Linked DNA regions of Homo sapiens. The protein of the gene in region 2 purifies or fractionates together with the protein of the main gene of each other region. This does not show direct contact. Each region holds a gene or a part of one and is shown on either strand. Other genes may lie near its edges.

Region 1 (3,694 bases), on a different chromosome or scaffold from region 2:
ACAAACTGAAAGCAGGGTCTCAAAGATATATATGTACACTCATGCTCGCGGCAGCATTATTCACAAGAGTCAAAAGGTAGAAGCAAACCAAGTGTCCATCAATGGATGAATGCATGAACAAAATGTGGTGTATACCTACAGCGAAATAGGAGCTTTAAAAAGGAAGGCAACCGGGACACGTGCTGCAGCACAGACGGACCTTTAGGACATTATGCTGAGTGAAACACGCCAGTTACAAAACAACCCAAACACTGCATGATTCCGCTGACGAGGTATCTAAGCAGTCACATTAGGCCAGGCACAGTGGCTCATGCCTATACTCCCAGCACTTTGGGAGGCTGAGGCAGGAGGATCCCTTGAGCCCAGGAGTTTCAGACCAGTCTAGGCAATATCGGGAGACCCCATCTCTACAAAAAATTAATTTAAAAAAAATTAGCCAGGTGTGCTGGCTCGCACCTATAGTCCCAGCTACTCTGGAGGGTGAGGGCAGAGAATCACTTGAGCCTGGGAAGTCAAGGCTGCAGTTAGCCATGATTGCGCCACTGCACTCCAGCCTGGGTGACAGAGCAAGGCTCTGTCTCAAAATAAATGAATACAATAAAATAAAAATAAAGTAGTCGGCAGGGTGCAGAGGCTCACACCTGTAATCCCAGCACTTAGGGAGGCTGAGGCAGGAGGATCATTTGAGTCCAGGAGTTAGCAAGACTTCATCTCTACTAAAAATTTTTTTTACAAAATGTTCTTAAGTGGTCAAACAAATAGAAACAGAGTAGAATGGTGGTTACCAGGAGCTCGTGGGAGAAAGACACAGAGTTGTGACTTGACAGGTACAGAGTTTCGGTTTTGCACGATGAAGAAGTTCTGGAGACCTGCTGCGCAGCATTGTGAATATACGTAACACTACCAACCTGGATACTTCAAGAGGGTTAGGATGGTACATTTTGTGGTCTTTTTTACCACAATGAAAAATTTTTAAAAACGCATATACAATATAATGTAGGTCACTATTCTCCTGTTCCCTTCCCAACTCAGGCTCTTTCTGAAAGAAACAGTCTTGGCAGCTCCTCACACACTGGAGCAACGGCAGGATTGACTTTCTGGTGCCTCTGGAGGCTCATGGTCACAACCCCACCTTCCCCTAACATGAGACAAATCCAGTGACCTCTTGGCTCCAACCATCCAAGCTGTAAGCTTCCAAACATAGTTCTCAGGGGTTTGTGAAGGAGCAGGACATACCAGTAATCTTAAGGCAGTTTTTGGGTTATGAGTACCAGCTGGGAACCACGTACCTCCCACAGCCCTCGCAGAGCCCCCAACTTCTCCCCATCCCAGCCACCGAGTCCACTTGTAAAGGAGGACCTCACCGCGTCACACACATTGCCCGTCCCTTCTCCCCCACTAGCCTTGAGGAGCAATGCAGTCCAGCAGCCCAAACCCAGGCTGGGGGTCTAAACCCCTGAGTTCGACCACTTCCACCTCGGATCCTCTGAAGTGGGACCTCCCAGAGCATTCCTCGCTTATCATTGCCCTCCATACCCTCAAACCCCTCATCTCCCACCCATGGCCTGTGAGAAGGACAATTTCCTTCACAGAGAGGCACTGTGAGGGAGGGGGTGAGGATCGAGGGGAGGGAGGGGCTAAGTGTGGGAGGCACATCCCAGGAGGAGAGGTCAAAAGGAGCTTGGCAAAGCAGCTGGCACAGACATGCAGTGGGAAAGAGGTTAGAGCCACTGACACGTAAAGCAGGAACCAGCCGGGCGCAGTGGCTCACACCTGTAATCCCAGCACTTTGGGAGGCCGAGGCGGGTGGATCCCCTGAGGTCAGGAGTTCGAGACCACCCTGGCCAACATGGCGAAACCCCGCCTCTACTAAAAATAAAAAAATTAGCCGGGCATGGTGGCGGGTGCCTGTAATCCCAGCTACTCAGGAGGCTGAGGCCAGAGAATCACTTGAACCCGGGAGGCAGAGGTTGCAGTGGGCCAAGATGGTGCCACTACATTCCAGCCTGGGCGACAGAGCGAGACTCCGCCTCAAAAAAAAAAAAAAAAAAAAGCAGGAACCGCCCCCCCCAACCCCCACCACAGGAAACCTAAGCAGCTCCTTCAGCTTGCTGAAAAGGGCACTGAGGCCCAGAGGCCTAAGGACACGCCCAAGGTCGCGCAGTGAGGCCAAGGTGCAGGTCAAGGTCTTGTTCTCAGCCCTTCAGAGTCACTGGCCTTTTTAGTGTAACAAGTGTTGCCTGTTGTCTCTGTGGCTGTTAAAGTAAGTTTTCATGAGAGTTTGGGGGCAGAGTCGCTTTTTCGGGAATAAACTAGCTTATTCTCATCAGAAATTCTGGTCTTGATTCTATCCTGAACATGAAAACATTTTTCCATACTTCCAAAACAAACTTCTTTTTTTTTGTGGGGGGACGGAGTCTTGCTCTTTCACTCAGGCTGGTGGGCAATGGTACAATCTCGGCTCACTGTAACCTCCGCCTCCCAAGTTCAAGCAATTCTCCCACCTCAGCCTACTGAGTAGCTGGGATTACAGGCACACATCACCACACCCAGCTGATTTTTGTATTTTTAGTAGAGACGGGGTTTCGCCACGTTGGCCAGGCTGGTCTCAAATTCCTGACCTCAGGTGATCCATCCACCTCGGCCTCCCAAAGTGCTGAAATCACAGGCGTGAGCCATCATGCCCAGCCTGAAACAAACTACTTAAAAGAGTTGCCAACTTTAATTTCTGGCAATATAGTAGATAAGATGATTTTAAAACTCTCACTCTATAAATAAATTTAGAAACGACTGAGCAAAGCTCCCTTAGTAATGAGGAAGCTGGTTTTTTATTTTTCATCACTTTAAATTTTTATTATTTTTTATTTTTTAGAGACAGTGTCTTGCTCTGTTGCCCAGGCTGAAGTGCACTGGCAAGATCATAGCTTAGTACAGCACTGAACTCATGGGTTCAAGAGATCCTCCTGCCTCAACCTCCTGAGTAGCTGGGACTCTAGTCACGCACCACCATGCCCGGCTAATTATTTATTTACTGTAGAGATTATGTATTTACTGCAGAGGTCTCACTAGGTTGCCTAGGCTGGTCTTGAACTTCCAGCCTCAAGCAATTCTCCCTCCTTGGCCTCCCATGGAGTGAGCCACCATGCCTGGTCACAACTGGGTTTTAATGGTTGCTCAGAGATGAGACCTTAGACCTAAGAGATGCAGAGAAGCTGAAACTGGGAACTATACCTAAATCCTCAGAGAACCAGTAGAACACTGACAAAATATGACAGCGAAGATTCTCTGGGCCAGGCGTTCTCTGGGCCAGGCGAAGTGGCTCATGCCTGTAATCCCAGTACTTTGGGAGGCCGAGACAGACGGATCACTTGAGGTCAGCTGTTCAAGACCAGTCTGGCCAACATGGCAAAACCTCTTCTCTACTAAAAATACACAAATTAGCTTGGCATGGTGGCACACGCCTGTAATCCCAGCCACTCGGGAGGCTGAAGCAAGAGAATGACTTGTACCTGGGAGGCAGAGTTGCAGTGAGCTGAGATCACGCCACTGCACTCCAGCCTAGGCAACAGAGACTCCATCTCAAAAAAAAAAAAAAAAAAAAAAAAAAAGATTATCTGTCTTAGCCTAAATTCTAGATATAAAAAATAATTCTTAAAAAAAAGAATTTGTAACCAAGGGCCTACCCTTTAATGGA
Region 2 (3,694 bases):
CGAGCATGCTGCCTTCAAGCATCTGTTTAACAAAGCACATCTTGCACCGCCCTTAATCCATTTAACCCTGAGTGGACACAGCACATGTTTCAGAGAGCACAGGGTTGGGGGTAAGGTCATAGATCAACAGGATCCCAAGGCAGAAGAATTTTTCTTAGTACAGAACAAAATGAAAAGTCTCCTATGTTTACTTCTTTCTACGCAGACACAGCAACCATCCGATTTCTCAATCTTTTCCCCACCTTTCCCCCTTTTCTATTCCACAAAACCGCCATTGTCGTCATGGCCCGTTCTCAATGAGCTGTTGGGTACACCTCCCAGACGGGGTGGTGGCCGGGCAGAGGGGCTCCTCACTTCCCAGTAGGGGCGGCCAGGCAGAGGCGCCCCTCACCTCCCGGACGGGGCGGCTGGCCGGGCAGGGGGCTGACCCCCTCACCTCCCTCCAGGCCGGGGCGGCTGGCCGGGTGGGGGGCTGACCCCCCGACCTCCCTCCCGGATGGGGCGGCTGGCTGGGCGGGGGGCTGATAATTTTTTTTAGTAGAGACAGGGTTTTGCCATGTTGCCCAAGCTGGTCTTGAATTCCTGGCTTCAAGTGATCCACCCACCTCGGCCTCCCAAAGTGCTGAGATTACAGGCATGAGCCCCTGCGCCCAGCCTACTTCTTTGTATTCTACAGATATAACTATCTTAGTTATGTTGAAAATGTATTGGATTGGATGTAATTAATAAGACTCTGAGGTCCACCTTGCAGTTAGAATACTGCTAATAGTGAAGTATTACCAAAAAAGGTTTACTCTTCATATAAGATGTTTGACAAATTAGTAAAATGAATGACATCCCAAATTTAGAGTGTACCTTTGGTCTTTATCCTACCCACTGCATATACAGTAGTATTTTGCAAATATTTAAACAAGCAAAAGAATTTGGCCTCTTGTTTATACCAAGTAAAGGATCCAAAAACGTTCATTAAGCTAAAAGGCTAAACACAAAAAACAAGTAGAGAAAAATGATTAAACAACTATTTAGGAATTAAATACTTTTATATTATTTTAACCTGCTTACCCGAAGCTTTAATGGGGCAACACTCTTCTGAGTTCCACTCCAGAGTTCCTGCACTAAATCACCATAGCATTTAGCCATATGCCCCTTCATACCAATGGGATTTGTCCTAGAAGTTTGAGAGGAAAATTTGTTGCCAAAGATTCTCATAAATCACAATCATGTGGGCAAAGATGCCTAGCATCTCACATCAAAATATCTTTTCTTTTTGAAACAAGAGATGTATTCCTTGGCCTATTTCATATTAAATAGGGCAAATAAGATAAAATCTTTCTCCCGCAGGGTGAAAAAAGAGGAAATTTAGGTGATAGTGGGTTTATATCAAAGTCACAGGTTAAGAGGCCAGTGACTCAAGAAAGTTTACCTGTTGAGTTCATAAAGATGTCTCCCTGAGATAAAATACTGTGTCAGTGGCTGTGTGTTACTAACGCACTGGATGCTTGAGTTCATGAAGCATGTGTTTCCCAGGTTGCTTAGACCTGTGGCTCCCTTTTCTGTGGGAACTGGAACAAACAATATGAGAACCAAAGCTTAGCTGTAGTAATATGCCATGGCACAAACAGTTACTTATATTCAATGAAAAGATTTTTTATAACTCTCATAATCAGCTAAATGGTGCTAATAATTCTCTAGCAGGTCTTTGAAATGCTAGAGAAGGCTTTTCATGGTATGTCTGGCAACAGTGATGATCCATGCTCATTTGTAACCCAGAAGCAGCAATTATTCTTTTTAATTGCTATGATTTTTCAAAATAATTCAAACAATTATTCTTCTAGCATGTCTTTTAAAACATATAAATTATTAAATTGCAGAGTTAGAAAGAAATTTAGAAAATAATTTGATGGTGGGTTTGCCAACATCAAATGCTGCTTCAGGAAAAAAGAAAAAGAAGGGCCCTAATTACTTTTGAACTAGAAAACCAAAAGTTGTTAGCACTTTAATAGTTGAAAGAAGAAAAAAAATACATTTAAAATAATCTCTTTAAAAAATAATACTGGAGACTTACCCTTTTGTCTATCTATTTTACTACTATTTGCTGTAAAAGACATCTCCTCAGGCCAACTCATATCTTTGTTGTGAACTGGAAGGACAGATAGGAATGTGTTAATTTCTTATCTGTCTAATTTACACCCACTTGATTGCTTCTGTTTTTTTTTTTTAAAGACATCTTATTCCTAAATCGGAAGTTTTAAAATCTAGCTAATTTTAGTACATGCATTGCTTAATGATGAGGTTACATTCTGAGAAATGCATCATTAGGTGATTTTGTCTTTGTATGAACATCACGGAGTGTACCTACACAAACCTAGGCTATGTATGGTATAGGCTGTTGCTCCTTGGCTACAAACCTGTACAGTATGTTACTGTATTGAACACTGTAGGCAACTGTAACACAATGGTAAGTATTTGTGTACCTAAACATGTTAGAACATAGAAAAGGTACAACTAAAAATACAGTATTATAATCTTATGGGACCACTGCAGTAAGCCATGATTGCACCACTGCACTCCATCCTTGGTGACAGAGTGAGACTTTATCTCTTAAAAAAATTTAAGAAATTCAAGCTAGAGCAGCTGATGGATATTGAGGCCTAGATTCACTGTCAAAGTGTTTCTTAAAGGGTGCTCTCCAGAACACCATGGAAAACTCATTGACTGTATAAGTTTGAAAATCCCTGCCCACAGGTCTACCCTTGTGTATGAGTAATCAGCTCTACCATTCAGCCCAGGTGTGTGTTTACTGGACCATCTGCAGGAAGCTGAAGAGGCATGAGCTGAAGGCAGAGGGTGAGTCCAAGATGGGATCTTAGGACAGGTATGAGAAGTTAGGCGAAAATGGGACAATTATAGCCTTAATAACCTTAGATAATAGTTCACATTATTATTTAGTTAATAGGATTGTACTCCCATTACATTTCTTAATTTTTTTTAAGAGATATTGTCTCACTCTGTCACCCAGGCTGGAGTGCAGTGGTACAATCATGGCTCACTGCTTCTTGGAACTCATGGGCTCCAGCAATCCTCCTGCCTCAGCCTCCTGACTAGGTGGGACTATAGGCACATGCCACCATGCCTGGCTAATTTCTTTGACTTTTCTCTAGAGACAGGGTCCACCTATGTTTCCCAGGCTGGTCTCAGACTTCTAGACTCAAGTGAACCTGAACCTCCCGCCTCGACCTCTCAAATTGCTGGGATTACAGGTGTGAGCCACCACACCCGGCCTAAATTTTTTATGGGCCATGCTATTACAAAACGTCATTATTAGGGGCAGCTGGATGGAAGGTGTAGGAGGACACTGTAGTGCCTTTACAATATTTCTGTATATCTAAAATCATTTCAACAGGAAACATTTATTTCAAAACGTGAAGGTGGTTATCCTTCCATGAGTTTAAAGACAGGCTCATGGTGTTGTCAGAATTCAGAACGCTGGTCGTGGGGCTGGGGGTGCTGGGATGGGGCTGGGCATGGTTGGCTTTGTGATCTGGGGGCTGGTGTGTTCCATCTGTGCATGTCTTTCAAGCTGCACGCTTTCTTAATAAATTTTCATAAGTTTAACAAAAAATAAAACAAGGATGCGAAGCCTGCTTGGATTGTTAAGCCTCGGGAAATTATCCAGCCATGAGCCCTGGCCCAG

The links. The genes of interacting proteins can lie anywhere in the genome.
Region 1: the proteins of USP6 (region 2) and TEAD4 purify together in Homo sapiens (affinity purification with western blotting, with the first as the bait; one study listed by BioGRID). This does not show direct contact.

What each region holds. Positions count from the first base shown.
Region 1 is NC_000012.12:2,990,376-2,994,069, reverse strand, and holds part of TEAD4 (transcriptional enhancer factor TEF-3), read right to left. Parts: intron 1-3,694. UniProt on the Homo sapiens protein: Transcription factor which plays a key role in the Hippo signaling pathway, a pathway involved in organ size control and tumor suppression by restricting proliferation and promoting apoptosis.
Region 2 is NC_000017.11:5,139,871-5,143,564, reverse strand, and holds part of USP6 (ubiquitin carboxyl-terminal hydrolase 6), read right to left. Parts: intron 2,141-3,694; coding exon 2,066-2,140; intron 1,563-2,065; coding exon 1,424-1,562; intron 1,169-1,423; coding exon 1,063-1,168; intron 1-1,062. UniProt on the Homo sapiens protein: Deubiquitinase with an ATP-independent isopeptidase activity, cleaving at the C-terminus of the ubiquitin moiety. Catalyzes its own deubiquitination. In vitro, isoform 2, but not isoform 3, shows deubiquitinating activity.